2 separate regions of the Homo sapiens genome follow, and region 2 is linked to region 1. Evidence: fine-mapped expression QTL. A gene starts in region 1. The other region holds a variant in brackets. All regions are shown on one strand. Distances are between the middles of the regions.

What was found.
Region 2: its variant is fine-mapped to the expression of COLGALT1 in lung (TOPMed, PIP 0.95).

The regions. Positions count from the first base shown.
Region 1 is chr19:17,550,919-17,559,243 of GRCh38, reverse strand. It overlaps COLGALT1 (collagen beta(1-O)galactosyltransferase 1), which reads right to left and starts at 3,595. Exons shown (of 12, transcript NM_024656.4): 1 at 3,271-3,595. The coding sequence starts at 3,530. It overlaps NIBAN3 (niban apoptosis regulator 3), which reads right to left. Exons shown (of 15, transcript NM_001321827.2): 15 at 5,604-7,458. The coding sequence ends at 7,346. RefSeq lists a silencer at 3,428-3,517.
Region 2 is chr19:17,577,579-17,585,903 of GRCh38, reverse strand. COLGALT1 (collagen beta(1-O)galactosyltransferase 1) reads right to left here. Exons shown (of 12, transcript NM_024656.4): 9 at 7,815-7,947; 10 at 6,295-6,422; 11 at 4,999-5,205; 12 at 2,747-4,727. The coding sequence ends at 4,460. Among named protein-coding and RNA genes, the nearest start is that of COLGALT1, 26 kb to the right of the region's middle. RefSeq lists enhancers at 5,670-5,964, 5,799-6,008. The variant C/T (reference allele first, on the strand shown) is at 3,263.

The DNA of each region.
Region 1 (8,325 bases):
GTCAAGGACCACCATCCCCAACTGGCCTCCCACCAGCTATGTATCCCTGGACAGGACACTTCTCCCTTTCCTTTGTTTTTTTTTGAGACAGAGTCTCGCTCTGTTGCCCAGGCTGGAGTGCAGTGGCGCGATCTCGGCTCACTGCAAGCTCCGCCTCCCGGGTTCACGCCTTCTCCTGTCTCAGCCTCCCAAGTAGCTGGGACTACAGGCGCCCGCCACCACACCCGGCTAATTTTTTTGTATTTTTAGTAGAGACGGGGTTTCACCATGTTGGCCAGGCTGGTCTCGATCTCCTGACCTCGTGATCCGCCCACCTTGGCCTCCCAAAGTGCTGGACTTAACAAGCGTGAGCCACCGCGCCCGGCCCATTTCTCCCTTTCCATGTCAGTTTCCTCATCTGTAACATGGGGGTGGGAACAGGACCCAGTTTACTGGGAAGTGGAAGGATTAAACAAGCTGATTTTGGAAAGACCCATTAGTGATTGGCTGTTTTATTACTGAGCATCTAAGATCTTGCAAACCACATTCACTAACAAATATGTGTCACTTAATTTTTTTTTTCTTTTGAGACAGAGTCTTGCTCTGTCACCCAGGCTAGAGTGCAGTGGCACAATCTTGGTTCACTGCAATCTCCGCCTACCAGGTCCAAGCAATTCTCCTGCCTCAGCCTCCCGAGTAGCTGGGATTACAGGTGCCCACCACCATGCCCAGCTAATTTTTGCATTTTTAGTAGAGATGGGGTTTCGCCATGTTGGCCAGGCTGCTCTCGAACTCCTGACCTCAGGTGATCCACCTGCCTCAGCCTCCCAAAGTGCTGGGATGACAGGAATGAGCCACCGCACACGGCAATTTTTGTAATGTATAGATCAGGCCAGGCACGGTGGCTCACGCCTGTCATCCCAGCACTTTGAGAGGCCGAGGCGGGTGTATCACCTGAGGTCAGGAGTTTGAGACCAGCCTGGCCAACATGGCGAAACCCCATCTCTACTAAAAATACAAAAATTAGGCCGGGCATGGTGGCTCACGCTTGTAATTCCAGCACTTTGGGAGGCCGAGGCGGGTGAATCACTTGAGGCCAGGAGTTTGAGCCTAGCCTGGCCAACATGGTGAAATCCCATCTCTACTAAAAACACAAAAAATTAGCTGGGTGTGGTGGCGGGCACCTGTAATCCCAGCTACTCAGGAGGCCGAGGCAGGAGAATCGCTTGAACCTGGGAGGAGGAGGTTGCAGTGAGCCGAGATCGTGCCACTGCACTCCAGCCTCAGCAACGAGAGCGAGACTCAGTCTCAAAAAATAAATAAATAAAAAATATTAAAAAATGAAATGTATATATCAGAAACCAGCTGGGTGCAATGGCTCACGCCTGTAATCCCAATATGTTGGGAGGCCGAGGTGGGCAGGTCACTTGAGCTCGGGAGTTCGAGACCAGCCTGGCCAATAGGGCAAAACCCCATCTCTAGAAAAAATACAAAAATTAGCTGGGCGCAGTGGCATACGCCTGTAGTCCCAGTTACTCAAGAAGCTGAGGCAGGAGAATCACTTGAGCCCAGGAGGGGGAAGTTGCAGTGAGCTAGGATTGCACCACTGCACTCCCGCCTGGGCGACAGATGTAAAACCCTGTATCAAAAAAAAAAGTATATCTCAGCAGGGCGCTGTGGCTCATGCCTGTAATCCCAGCACTTAGGGAGGCCGAGGCAGGCAGATCATGAGGTCAGGAGATCAACACAAGCCTGGCCACAATGGTGAAACCCTGACTCTATTAAAAATACAAAAATTAGCCAGGCATGGTGGTGCGCACCTGTAATCCCAAGCTACTCGGGAGGCTGAGGCAGGAGAATCACTTGAACCCGGAGGCGGAGGTTGCAATGAGCTGAGATCGTGTCACTGTACTCCAGCCTGGGCGACAGAGCAAGATTCCGTCTGAGAGAAAAAAAAAAGTATATCTCAAAGTATATCTCATAAATCCCTTACCCTGCCTTCATCTTCTCCTGTGAGCCACACCACTTCAGTGGGCTGCAGTCAATTATTCATTCAACAAACATTTGTTAAGTACCAATTGTGTATTTGGATTATCCAGACTGAGAAATCAGGTGGAAGGAAAAGCGACATTTGGGAGTTTAGTTTGACCGTAGTGCCAAAAGCTAATTCTGCCCAATAAATTAAGTTGACAATAACACCAGCAATGACAGTAATCATGATAATAAAATCACTGAGAGCCAAGCCCATGCCAGACCCAAGGGCTCCACATCCATTAACTGGATAATCTTCAGAGACAAACCCAAAAAGAGAATTATATTAATACGCTCATTTTCTTTTCTTTTTCTTTTTTTAGAGGCAGGTCTTACTCTGTAGCCCAGGCTGGAGTGCAGTGGTGCAATCATAGGTCACTGCAGCCTCGAACTCCTGGGCTCAAGCGATTCTCCTGCGTCAGCCTCCTGAATAGCTGGGACTACAGGCACACACCACCGCACCTGGCTAATTTTTGTATTTTTTTTCTAGAGACGGGGTTTTGCCATGTTGGCAAGGCTGGTGTCGAACTCCTGAGCTCAAGTGACCCGCTTACCTTGGCCTCCCAAATTGCTAGGATTACTGCGTGAGCCACTGCACCCGGACCCATTTTCCATTTGAGAAAACTGAGGCAGGGAGTGAGAAGTCACCAGTCAAAGGTTTCTTCAGAGCTCTGCCCCATTCCCTACCAAGAAAGCATCCACTTCCTCCTGGGCCATCTGGTCCTGGACTCCACCCACGCCGGTCTGAGGGCAGGGGTTTGACTGGGGCCTGGAGCCAGGCTGAGTTCAAGCTTAAGGGCAGCAGCCGGCACAGAAAGGCTTGCTGTTAGATGTGGCCTCTGGCAACGCCCCAGTGGGGGCTCTGGGCTCCGTCCTTTGGAGGTGTACGTGCCCCAGAGGGAGTTAGAGCCCCAGTTAGTGAGGCCGGAGCTGCCCTAGTAGGGTCCAGCAGGCAGAAGCGGTGCCCAGCCCACCCCAAAGGAGCCAGCAGGAGGAACTCGGTCCCGCTTGTGTTGTGGGGAGGGCTGTGTCTGGCCCCATGGGAGGACAGCAGGCAGGGGGCACGCGTGGACCCGTCCCGATGGGGGCAGCGGGCAGGGGCATGCGTAGAACCGTCCCGATGGGGGTAGCGAGCAGGAAGCACGCGCGGACCCGCCCAGAAGAGGACAGCGGGCAGGGGCTCGCGTGGACCCACCCCTATGGGGACAGCAAGCAGGGGCTCGCGTGACCCGCCTGATGGGGACAGCGGGCTCGACTCACCATAGCGCCGTGCGCTCCCGCGGGTGCCGCAGCCGCTCGAGTGCGCCCAGCGTGGTGGGCAACGCGTGGGCCGCGTTTCGCGCCAACAGCGCGATGAGCACGCGCGGCGCCTGCAGGGGCGACTCCGGGCTCCAGCGCTCCTCGGGGAAGTAGGCGTCGGCGCCCGGCGGGGCCCCCGGCGGCAGTGGCGCCAGCAGCAGAAGCAGCAGCGCCAGGAGCGGCTGCCCGCGCCGCCGGCCCGCGCGTGGGGCCGCCGCCATCGCGCCACGCGTCTCCTTTAAGTCGTTTTTCTGCGGGAGGACTCTGGCCGCGCCTTAAAGGGGTCATAGGGGCCCCGCCCGGCCGCGCGCCTTAAAGGGGAGGAGCGCGCCGGGCGTGAAGTCCAGGCCCCGCCTCCAGACGCTCTCCGAGTCCCAAGGCCCGGAGTGACGTCACCTGCAGCCCTACCCAGGACGCCCCGCCCCCGCACCGATCTTAAAGGCACATAGCGCTCGGAGCGCGTGGAAGGGATGTTAGGGGTAGCGTTAGGGTTAGGAACCCGCGCTTCCTCCAGGCGCCTCCTACCACTGAGACCTCCGCCAGATGCGCCGCCCAATTTCCCCATGTATAAAACCCGGGCTGTGCCACCAGGCGGACTTGGCTACTTAGGACCTGGTTTGGGACCCAAGAGACCTTAGCCTCAGTTTCCTCTGCTGCAACGTGGGTTTTGCCATCCTGGTTTTGGATCTCACAGGGATGTCATTGAGGGTTGTGGAGAATAAAGGTCATGACGTCCACAGACCTGGCGTCACATTCAGTCCCCGCCTTGGGCTTGCTATATGTGAGCCTCAGTCTGTCCATCTATAAAATGAGATCATAGAGACCCTATAGGGTTGGCGTGAAAATAGAGCCAGGGCATGATAATGGACCGTTCTGGGCACAAGCTCTTCCAGAGACAAGGGCCATGTTTTCATGGAAACGCTGTCAAGGGATTGTTTTCCAATACTCTAGAGCCGCATTTTCAAATTGATTGACTTAGTATCACACTTTTTTTTTTTTTTTTTTGAGACGGAGTCTGGCTTTGTTGCCCGGGCTGGAGTGCAGTGGTGCAACATAGCAAGACCGTGCCTCTATTTTTAAAAACAATAAAAACTTTAAAAAATACATCTGAACATTATTATTATTATTATTATTATTTTCTTTTTTTTTTTTTTTGAGACAGCGTCTCACTCCATTGCCCCGGCTAGAGTACAGTGGCGCGATCTCGGCTCACTGCAACCTCCGCCTCCCGGGTTCAAGCGATTCTCCTGCTTCAGCCTCCTGAGTAGCTGGGACTACAGGCACGCGCCACCACGCCCGGCTAATTTTTGTTTATAGTAGAGATGGGGTTTCACCATATTGGCCAGGCTGGTCTCGAACTCCTGACCTCCTGATCCGCCCACCTCAGCCTCCCAAAGTGCTGGGATTACAGGCGTGAGCCACCGCGCCCAGCTTATTATTATTTTCACAGAGAGGGTCTTACTCTGTGGCTCAGGCTAGAGTGCAGTGGCATGATCACATGATCATGGCTCACTGCAGCCTCAACCTCCTGGGCTCAACTGATCCTCCTGCCTCAGCCTCCCAAGTAGCTGGGACTACAAGTGCACTCAACCACGCCCAGCTAATTTTTAAATTTTTTGTAGAGATGGAGTCTCGCTATGTTGCCCCGGCTGTTCTCAAACTCCTGGTCTCAAGTAATCCTCCCCCTTCAGCCTCCCAAACTGCTGGGATTACCAGTGAGCCATCATGCCCCGCTAAAACTTAATTTTTAAGAATGATACAGGCCAGGTGCAGTGGCTCACGCCTGTAATCCCAGCATTTTGGGAGGCTGAGGCAGGCGGATCACTTGAGGTCAGGAGTTCGAGACCAGCTTGGTCAATATGGTGAAGCCCCCATCTCTTCTAAAAACACAAAAAATTAGCCGGTCATGGTGGCGCTTCGCCTGTAATCCCAGCTACTACGGAGGCCGAGGCAGGAGAATCACTTGAACCCAGGAGGTGGAGGTTGCAGTGAGCCAAAATCGCACCACTGCATTCCAGCCTGGGTGACAGAGTGAGACACCGTCTCAAAAAAAAAAAAAAAAAGGTAAAAACAAATTTACACTCTGTGGACTTGATGAGGAAAGGTCTTTTCATATTAAGTAAGAAAAAGGAGGTGACAAGATACATCCCATCCCATCTGGAAGGATTTAGACCCAAGGGCAAACAATGTTTTTCTCAAAAGGGGCAGGATGACAAATTCTTGTAGCTGCAATTGTTCCAGAATTAACATCTACATCCCGTCCGGGGTAAAAGGAAGACAGCTAAAGAAGCCTATGAAGTGCAAATGTATTGAGCAAATGTATTTCGGAAGGTGGGGTTGGAGGGAAATAGGTGGAAAGGTCAGGAATATCTCATTGTCTTGGGGTAGGCCGAAAACTCCAGACAGAATGGGAGGAAACGGTCTCCAGGGAGTGTGAAAGTCCCTCTGCAAGCTGAACCAAGAACACACGGGAATCCCTGTGGAACCCACTCCGGAAGCAGCTGCAAGACAGCAGAGAAGCTGCCAATATCCAGTTAGCAGATGACTTTGCTGGCAAGCAGAGGAAGTCGGTAAAAGCTTGTCTCCCAGCCAGGAAACTTGACACCAAGTTAAGATTTGGAGCTAGGAAACAAACCCAAAAGGCTCACAGCAAGCGGAGAAAAAAACCCCAAAATCTGTAACCTGTATCACAAAGCGTTCATATCCTTCAGATATAAAGAGTTATTAGATATCAATAAGAAAAATGCAAACACTCCTGAAAAGTAGAAAAAAGCTATGAACAGGCAATTCACTGAAATTAAAAAAAAAAAAACTACAAACATGTAAATGGCTAATCAACATATTTGGATTTTGTTTTTTGAGACAGGGTCTCACTCCCATCACCCAGGCTGGAGTGCAGTGGTGCAATCACCACTCACTGCAGCCTTGAGTTCCCAGGCTCAGGTAAATCTCCCATCTCAGCCCAGCTTCTTTTAAATTTTATTTATTTATTTATTTATTTATTTATTTATTTATTTATTTTATTTTTTAGTAGAGACAGGTTTCACCACATTGCCCAAGCTGGCCTCAAAACTCCTTGGCTCAAGCAATCCACCTGTCTCAGCCTCCCAAAGTGCTGGGATGACAGGCGTGAGCCACCACTCCCGGCCGCTAATTTTGTATTTTTTGTAGAGATGAGGTCTCACTATGTTCGCCAGGCTGGTCTTGAACTCCTGAGCTCAAGTGATCTGCCCGCCTCAGCCTCCCAAAGTGCTGGGATTACAGGTGTGCACTGCCACGCCTGGCCATAATAAACTTATTTGTAAGTTCAATTTAGTCAAAGAAATTCAAAATAAAATCATGAGATTTCTGTGTGTGTCTAACTGGCATAGCTTTTTTCTTTTCATGAAAAGTCCTAGTGTTTAGAAAGGATTTGGAGGCTGGACATAGTGGATCACTCCTATAATCCTAGCACTTTGGGAGGCCAAGGCAGGAGGATTGCTTGAGTCCAGGAGTTTGAGATCAGCCTGGGCAGCATAGCGAGACCTTGTCTCTATTATTTAAAAAAAAAAAATTAGGCCACGTGTGGTGGCTCACACCTGTAATCCCAGCACTTTGGGAGGCTGAGGGGGGCAGATCACTTAAGGACAGGAGTTCGAGACCAGCCTGGCCAACATGGTGAAACCCCATCTCTACTAAAAACACAAAAATTAACCAGGCATGGTGGCGGGTGCCTGAAATCTCAGCTACTCGGGAGGCTGAGGCAGGAGAATCGCTTGAACCCGGGAGGCGGAGGTTGCAGTGAGCCGAGATCCTGCCACTGCACTCCAGCCCGGGTGACAGAGCAAGACTCAGTCTCAAAAAAAAAAAAAAAATTAAAATAAAGAAAGCCTTGGGGAAAATACACAAATAAATGCTGCTGCTTGGAGTATAAAATGGTACAGTTTTCTGAAGTTGCAGGGGTTACAAAAGCCTAAAGATGGCACATCCGTTTTGGCCCAGAAATTCCACTTGTAGACATTTATCCAATAGAAACAAGATAGATGTGGGTGAAGATTCAGCTCCGGAATGTTCCTGGAGAAGGCGGTGGGCAGAGTGGCTGGATCTGGGCACCAGAGTCTGGCTGCCTGGGACAAGCCCCTCCTTCCCGCTCAGCCTCAGTTTCCTCATCTGTATAATGGAAAATATACGGACGTCAAAAATCAGATGTGTCAGATGCCTGGCATGTAATAAGTGCTTAAAAAATCAGAGTTAATAGAGATGTTGGCTGGGCGCAATGGCTCATGCCTGTAATCCCAGCACTCTGGGAGACCAAGGATCAGGAGTTCAAGACCAGCTTGGCCAACATGGTGAAACCTCATCTTTACTAAAAATACAAAAATTAGCTGGGCATGGTGGTGGGCGCCTGTAATCCCAGCTACTCGGGAGGCTGAGGCATGAGAATCGCTTGAACCCGAGAGGCAGAGGTTGCAGTTAGCCGAGATCGCGCCATTGCACTCCAGCCCGGGTGACAAGAGCGAAACTCCATCTCAAAAAATAAAAATAAAAAAAAAGAAATGTAGGCCGGGTGCAGTGGCTCACGCTTGTAATCCCAGCACTTTGGGAGGCCGAGGCAGGTGGATCACCTGAGGTCAGGAGTTCAAAATCAGCCTGGCCGACATGGTGAAACCCCATGTCTACTAAAAATACAAAAGTAGCCGGGCGTGGTGGTGGACGCCTGTAATCCCAGCTACTGGGGAGGCTGAGGCAGGAGAATTGCTTGAACCCGCAAGGTGGAGGTTACAGTGAGCCAAGATGCTGCCACTGCACTCCAGCCTGGTGACAGAGCGACACTCCATCTCAAAAAATAAATAAATAAATAAATAAAAAGAAAAAGAAATGTATAAGCAGCCAAAAGATGAAAGGGTGAAGGATAGGAGAGAAGGTTCTCAGAAAAGGAGCTAAAAGCAGCTCCTAAACCTCCCGGACAAAGGTGAGGGGCACCAGTGAGGCTACCCTGGTGGACAGCCCTCTGTTGAAATGACAAACACACATACT
Region 2 (8,325 bases), 27 kb before region 1:
ACTGAAACCTGAAGTGCACATCCAGGTTAATCCAGGAATCCCACCTGTCTCAATTTACCCAACTGAAATTTTAAAATCCAGTAGGAAGCCAGGTGCAGTGGCTCACGCCTGCAATCCCAGCACTTTGGGAGCCAAGGCGGGTGGATCACTTGTAGTCAGGAGTTCAAGACCAGCCTGGCCAACATGGTGAAACCCCATCTCTACTAAAAATACAAAAATTCTCCAGGTGTGGTGCGGGCGCCTGTAATCTATTACTCAGGAGGCTGAGGCAGGAGAATTGCTTGAACCCAGGAGGCGGAGGTTGCAGTGAGTCAAGATCGTATCACTGCTCTCCAGCCTGGGTGACAGAGTGTGACTCCGTCTCAAAAAGCAAAACAAAACAAACAAAAAAACACAAAAAAACAAAAAATCCAGTAGGAAAGATGTATTGTATAATGCTATCCACTGCAGGAAACAGCAGGGAATATTTTCCATAACAATCCAAAAAGAGCTCGTAGATGTTAACCCTATTTTGGAAAGGAGGTCCACAATAGTTGTTAAATTTAAAAATAAAAGTTGTTTTTTAAAAAATAGGTACAGTTTGATCCCATGCTTAGAAAATAAAAGTGCATTCCACGAAAAATAAAACGGCAAGTTGCAGTAGCTTAGGTAACATGGTCCTCCTTTTTTAAAAAATGCATATATATTTACACCATGCAAATAAGGAAGGCTGGAAAGTTTTTGAAAATGTTAGTTGTGTCTGAAAAGGTGTGATTTAATTTTTGCTTTGTCAATTTGCTTAGCTGTAAGTTCTGATTTTTTCCACACTGATTGAACACCATCAGTGTTAGGGTTTTTTGTTGTTGTTTGTTTTTTGTTTTTTGAGACAAGAGTGTTGCTCTGTCGCCCAGGCTGGAGTGCAGTGGCGTGATCTCGGCTCACTACAACCTCCGCCTCCCAGGTTCAAGTGATTCTTCTGCCTCAGCCTCCAAGTAGCTGGGACTACAGGCGCTCACCACCATGCCCAGCTAATTTTTCTGTATTTTTAGTAGAGACGGGGTTTCACCATATTGGCCAGGCTGGTCTCGAACTCCTGACCTCATGATCCACCAGCCTCGGCCTCCCAAAGTGCTGGGATTACAGGTGTGAGCCACCGCGCCTGGCCCCTGTGTTAGTTTATAAAAGTCTCGGGTATATTCTTGCACACCCTAAAGGTGTAATAATCCAGAGGATTTGTAAGCATTTGACCCAGAAAATCCAAATGCAACTGGGCATGTTGTAATGTCCAGCCCCCTCTCCCTGGGGTGGGACCACTCTTTCCCTTCTTGTCTCACTTCCCTACTGCTCCACAGCAAGTTCCTGGGGTCACTGATAACGTAAGTGCCCTTCAATCCTCATCTTGGAGTCTGTTTCAGGGGACCCAAACCATGACAGCCCCTCCTCATTTGAAGTCATCTGCGACGATCCTGTGGTTGATCCAAGATAGAATGAAGTTGGCCACCTGTCCCTGGGCTATTTCAGGGAAGTTTTCTGGTTTTGTTTTATAGAAACAGGGTCTTGCTCTGTTGCCCAGGCTGGAGTGCAGTGGTGTGATCATGGTTCACTGCAGCCTCAACCTCCTAGACTCAAGAGATACTCCTGCTTCAGCCTCCTGAGTAGCCAGATTACAGGTGTGCCCTACCATGCCCAACTAATTTCTCAATTTTTTTTGTAGAGACGAGGGTCTCACTCTGTTGCCCAAGCTGGTCTTGAGCTCCTGACCTCAAGCAATCCTCTCACCTCCTCAACCTCCCAAAGCATTGGGATTATAGGAGTGAGCCACCTCACCCAGCCTAATCCTTTTTTTTTTTTGAGATGGAGTCTCATTCTGTTGCCCAGGCTGGAGTGCAGTGGCAAGATTTCAGCTCACTGCAACCTCCACCTCCTGCGTTCAAGCGATTCTCCTGCCTCAGCCTCCCAAGTAGCTGGGACTACTGTCACACACCACCATGCCTGGCTGCTTTTTGCATTTTTAGTAGAGACGGGATTTCATCTTATTGATCAGGCTGGTCTCGAACTCCTGACCTCAGGTGATCCACCCACCTTGGCCTCCCAAAGTGCTGGGATTACAGGCGTGAACCACCATGCCCAGCCCTAATCCTCATGTTGAGGTCTGTTTTAGGGGGACTCAAAGCACGACAGCCCCTCTTTATTCGAAGTCATGTGGAAGGATCCTGAAGTTGACTCAAGACAGAGCTGTCGGTCCCCCGCCTGTTTGGGGGAAGTTTTATGGCATGAGGGGACACAGGGCTCTTACCACACCCTCACCCCACAGTAGCTCCACTGGCCAGCTTTTTTTTTTTTTTTTTGGTTTGATTGTGTCTTGCTCTGCCGCCCAGGCTGGAGGGCAGTGGCTCAATCTTGGGTCACTGCAACCTCCACCTCCCAGGTTCAAGCGATTCTCCTGCCTCAGCCTCCCAAGTAGCGAGGATTACAGGTACCCCCCCCCCGCCACCCCGCCCCACTACACTAGGCTAATTTTTGTACTTTTAATAGAGAGGGGGTTTCACCATGTTGGCCAGGCTGGTCTTGAATTCCTGACCTCAAGTGATCCGCCCACCTTAGCCTCCCAAAGCACCGGGATTACAGGCATGAGCCACCATGCCAGGCCCCACTGGGCAGCTTCCCTACTGCACCTGCCCTGGTTTCCTCCCAAATCTTGTCGGCCATCCAGGGGTGGGGAACGTGGGCAGTGTTTTGGTGCCGAGCAAAATCCCACAAACTGCTGTGAAAACCAACCAGGAACATTTATTAAAAAACTAAGCAAGTTATCCCCAAGAGGGTGAAGCACCGCTGGCTGGTTCTGACATTCGATTCAGGCTGAAGGCACGGCAACTCCTCCAGCCCTTGCTGGGAAATGTCCTACCCAGGCCACGGGCAGTGCCCCAGTGCAGCTGGGTCCCCTAAAAGCCCCCAAACACATGATCCCACCAAAGGCTTGAACAGAGCAACTTCATCAAGCAGGCAGGGACCACACCTGAGACACAAGGGCAAGGAGGTAAAGCACAGGGGACCGGGAGTGGGCCAGGGACACCCAGCCCCCGTCTCCAACTGGCGCCCCCTCCAGGGGGGCTAACATGTGGCGTGGGGCCACCAGGACCTGTGCTTGCCCCTGGTGGCGGAAGAGCTACCCTCCCTCTTGGGTGGTGGGGGGATGTTGTCTGCACACAGCTCAGACGACCGAGGGTACAGGAAGAATCAAACTCAGTCAACCATTCTTCAACCCAACTGGGAGTCTGTGAGG[C/T]CTGGCACACAGGTGCTCAATAAACACTTGTGGCATGAAGAAGTGAAGGAACCGATCTTGTTCATCTCTGTGCCCCAGCACTCGGCATGTAGCCCATGATCGAAAATGCAGACTGAACAACTGTCACACTCTTTTGTATCACTAGTGCCCGGCACACAGTCAGTGCTCTTCAGGTGTGTGGGAAAGAAGCCAATGAGTGAGAAGTTCCCACACCGTCTAGCAGTGAGGAAAAAAAGAAAAAAGTAAAAAGTACCTTGTTTACTCCCATTCCCATCCCATAGCTCAGCTCCCTGCACACAGCAGGTGCTCAGTAAGTGTACCGAATCAGGAACTTATCTTTGTGACATGAGTGCCAGGCACACAGTAGGTGACCAATATGTGCTTGAATAAATGGATAGAAGCATCTTATTTATCTCAATATTCCCAGAGCCTGGGCTGGGCACAGTGGCTCATGCCTGTAACCCTAGCACTTTGGGTGGCCAAGGCGGGCAGATCACTTGAGGTCAGGAGTTCGAGACCAGCCTGGCCAACATGGTGAAACCCCGTCTCTACTAAAAATACAAAAACTAGCCAGATGTGATGGCACGCACCTATAGTCCCAGCTACTTGGGAGGCCGAGAAACAAGAATTGCTGGACGCTGGGAGGCGCAGGCTGCAGTGAGCCGTCACACCACTGCACTCCAGCCTGGGTGACAGAGACAGACTCTACTCTTAAAAAAAAAAAAAAAAAAATCCCAGAGCCTGGAATGGCACCCAACACACAGTAGGCACTCAATAAATCCTTGAATGAATTTTAAAAATGAATGTGTATCACTAGTGCCTGATTCTTAATCTGATCAGTAACTGCTTGATGACTGAATCAATCGCTGATGGAGGGAACAATTATGCCTCATTCACTGCCGTAACATGGGAACCTTGCATACAGCAGGTGCTTAATAAATGCTGGGCACATGAACAGATGAAGAGGGCTTGGTTCCTCCCAATTCCCCAGGGCCAAGCCCTGTTGCTGGCATGCAGTAGGCACTCCATTAATGCTGCCTGTGTGCACGTGATTGCTTAGCAAGAGCTGGCTGGACACCACCCCACACGAGAGCCCTCTGTGGCCTGCCAAGGGGTCCAGAGGTGGACCTGATGTCCTCAGTAAGCACGTGGAGCCTGGGCCACCGATGGCTGCTTTGGCTTTCTGGCTGCTACCCCTCAGAGTTCATCCCGGGCAGCACTGTCCAGTGGGGACTGGAGCACGTCCGAGTTCTTGGCCTCACGGCTCAGTGCCTGCTGCTCCCGCATCTTCTGGGACTTGGCGCGGTCCCAGTCGGTCTTGACGTGCTCATTGTTCCATACGACTGAGGTCTCGGTGTCACTCACATAGCCATCGTCTCCTGTGTAGTGTGTGGGGTAGATGAGCAGCGGCTCCACAGAGAAGGCATGCAGGTTGCGGAGGGAGAAGTGGGCCTTGTACTCGGACCTGGGGGGAGGAGGAGGGGAGTGAGGGGCAGCAATGGCTTCAGGGGACGGGACAGCTGGAGGAAAAATTGGGGGTGAAGAAGTCAGCGGGGACAGATTAAAACGTAAGTGTGCAGGGGATACAAATGGAGACAGATCTGCGAGGGGGCAAACGGAGGGAGAAGTAGGCAAAAGAAGAGACATCTTCTCGGAGGCCGTGAGTCTCACATCCCCATTCTCCCAGGACAGACCCACCGTGAAACCCCAGCCCAGCAGCCGCCTGCCCCTCTCACACTGGGTGTTTGTCGAACATGACGGGCAGGAACTCGTCCACAGGCAGCATCTTGGAGAGCGGCTCAGCAGCCAGCAGTTTGCGGGCGCCTTGCAGGGAGATCACGTAGGCCAGGGTCCAGTAGGAATAGTCGGCCTCCACCAGGTTCCTCACGCGAGGCACAGCCTTCTCGGGGTGCTCCACCTGCATCCGCTTCCGGCCCACATAGCTGGGGTGCAAGATCGGGCCTGTCACTCTCCTCCCGCCCTCCGGAGGGAGCTTGCCCAGAAAGCCAGGGATCTAGTTACCCCGTCAGGTCCTGGGATGGGAGCAGGCTCAGCATGTTTGCAGAGCTCTGTGACTGGATGGAGTGAATGCAGGAGCCCAGGGGTCTGGCGGTCATGGGGGAGAAGAGTGAGTTTTTCCAAAGGGCGTGAGGGAGCCATGGAGGATCTGGAGCTGGGGAGAGCAGGATCACGCAGACGTTCTCTGAGGCTGAAGCTGCTCTGAGTTCAGAGGACAGTGGGGGTGGAGGTGGGCGAGGTGCCCTGATGGGGGGGCAGTCAGGAATGGAGGGGTGCAGTTACTATTCACATGGGGCAGTGTTCCCAGAATGCAGATTAGGGCACTGCACATGGAAGGGAAAAAAGAGATGGAGGAAGGGAGAGGACAAACCAGCCCACTTACAGAAGAGAAGGACGGCTCCAGTGCTGGAAACATGTTGGTGGCACTCCCATCCAGGGGCTTGTCTAAGACCAGGCGCCCTGGCCACGCCCCCACACTCTTCGGCCACACCTCCAGCTCTGACCACACCCCCATGCTCTTCAGCCACGCCCACAGGCTGCCCGGTCAAATTTTAGCCACATCCACCTCCACAGGCCTCAGTCAAGTCTCTAAGCCTTGACCAAGCCTGCAGGCTTCCGGCCAGGTCCCTTGAGTTCTGGGTGATCCTTCCAACGCCCTTCCCTATAGGCTACAGCCCTGACAGTGCCTTCAGGCCCAGGAACCACGTGAGCCCTCCTGCTACGCTTCCAAGGGTTGGCCACGCCTGCCACCCTGACCACACCCAGACATACAGGCTCTAGGCTCAGCTGCAGCGCTGTGGCCACGCCCGTAGGATTCAGCTCCACTCCGCCTCCCAGCCCCACCTCTAAGCCCTGGCCATGTACCTAGGCTCCAGTTCCACCCCACCTTCAAGCCCCGCCTCTAAGCCATGACCCATCCCCAGGTCCCAGCTCCACCCTGCCCCCACCCCCACCTCTAAGTCCTGGCCTTGCCCCAGGCCCCAGCTTCACCCCATCCTCAGACCCCCACTCACATGAGGTCCCAGTCCAGGCCCTCCCGCTCCACATCCCGCATGAGGTTCATCAGACGTCTCTTGAAGAAGATCTCAAAACGCAGGTCATCCTCAAACACAAGCGATTTCTGCAGCCCCCGGTCCACCACCTGAGGGAGGAAGCCCCGCCACATCACAGGGAGGCCAAGGCCAGGCCTGACCCTAAAGCACAGAGCTTTGCTTTGAGAAGGTTTGAAAGACCCGTAGAGAAGCCAGTGCATCTCCCTGCCTCTCCTAGCTCCAGGGACATCTGGACATCCAAACCTCTGCCCTCTGCCGTCCATAATGGATCTCAGAAGAGAAAGGCCTCCCAGCCCCTCAAATGCCCACGCCTCATGCACCTCCCGCCTTGCAGCCGCACACCCCCATTTGGCTTCACATTCGATAACAAGTTTTTCTTTTCTTTTTCTTTTTTTTTTTTTTTGAGACGGAGTCTCGCCCTGTCGCCCAGGCTGGAGTGCAGTGGAACGATCTCAACTGCAACCTCCGCCTCCCAGGTTCAAGTAATTCTGCCTCAGCCTCCTGAGCAGCTGGGATTACAGGCATGTGCCACTACGCCCGGATTTTATTTTTCTTTTTTTGAGATGGAGTGTCACTCTTGTCGCCCAGGCTGGAGTGCAATGGCATGATTTCAGCCCACTGCAACCTCTGCCTCCTGGGTTCAAGTGATTCTCCTGCCTCAGTCTCCCAAGTAGAGGGATTACAGGTGCCCACCACCACACCCAGATAATTTTTGTATTTTTAGTAGAGTCTAGGTTTCACCATGTTGGCCAGGCTGGTCTTGAACTCCTGACCTAAGGTGATCCGCCTGCCTCGGCCTCCCAAAGTGCTGAGATTACAGGCATGAGCCACCACGCCCAGCCATTTTTCTTTTTTCTGAGACACGGTTTTGCTCTGCTGTCCAGTCTGCAGTGCAGTGGCACGATCTTGGCTGACTGCAGCCTTAACTCCTGGGCTCAAGCCACTCTCCCACTTTAGCCTCCCAAATAGTTGGGACCACAGGTGTGCGCCACCATGCCCGGCCCTGATGGCCCAAGTTCGAAGCCTAGTCAGACACCCTCCTCCAATCACAGCCTCTCCCTCTGAGGGTGGATGAGGATGCCTGGGCTGGTGAGTGCCCCCAGCAGCACTGGGCAGGTGCTGGTTTAAAGTGGCTCTGTGGCCATGACTTCTAGTACTAAACATCAAGCACAGAGACCAGGCTGGGAGTAATGAGGATTTGTTTACAGGTCCCAGGCCCCAGACACCACCTGCTGCTCAAAAGGGCTCACCCCTACCCCCAGGCTCAGTTTCCACATTTGCGCAATGGAAGGATGGCAGGTACACCTGGGGGTGATACAGCTGGTGTGGCGCATCATTCACTAAAGAGAGGCCATGGGTCCCATGGCTGAGGCTGGATGCCTAGCCGGGGCTTTGGGGAACTCTTTCAACCCCTTTCCCGTCCAAATCTCCGATGAGATCTAGAGTCATAACTCTGGCCCCGCCCATCACTCAGGACACACCTCCTTCCAGATGTTGTAGTGGCTCAGGAAGCAGCCCAGCTCACCCTTGGTGAGGGGCCGGCCGTGGTAGGGGTCCCGGTAGCCAGGCAGCATCTGGATCCCCAGCGCCTCCACCTGGCTGGTGTTCATGGCTCTGGAGAGGAGGAGGAGAGGGTCACGAAGAAGGTTCACCCTGCCTGCCATTCTGCCATCCCCGGCCATTCCACCACCCCCTGCGGCGTTGAGCAGCTGGTCCACCTCTTGTAGCACTGGCACCCCTTCCGGGCACATGGGGCCTCACTCACCTGCACATGGTATACACTCGCGGGCAAACCTGCTCTCCTCCTCTCCTGGGGTCTGACTGACTTACCCCTCCACAGTCCCCACCAGTCTACACTGGCAGCATGCAAACCTACCCATTCCCCTGGGTCAGGACTCACTTGCCTTCCATGGTCTACAACTGTGAGGATCTGCCCCTTCCCCAGGGTCCCATTCACTTCCCCTTCAGGACGCCCACTGACGAGGTCTACAT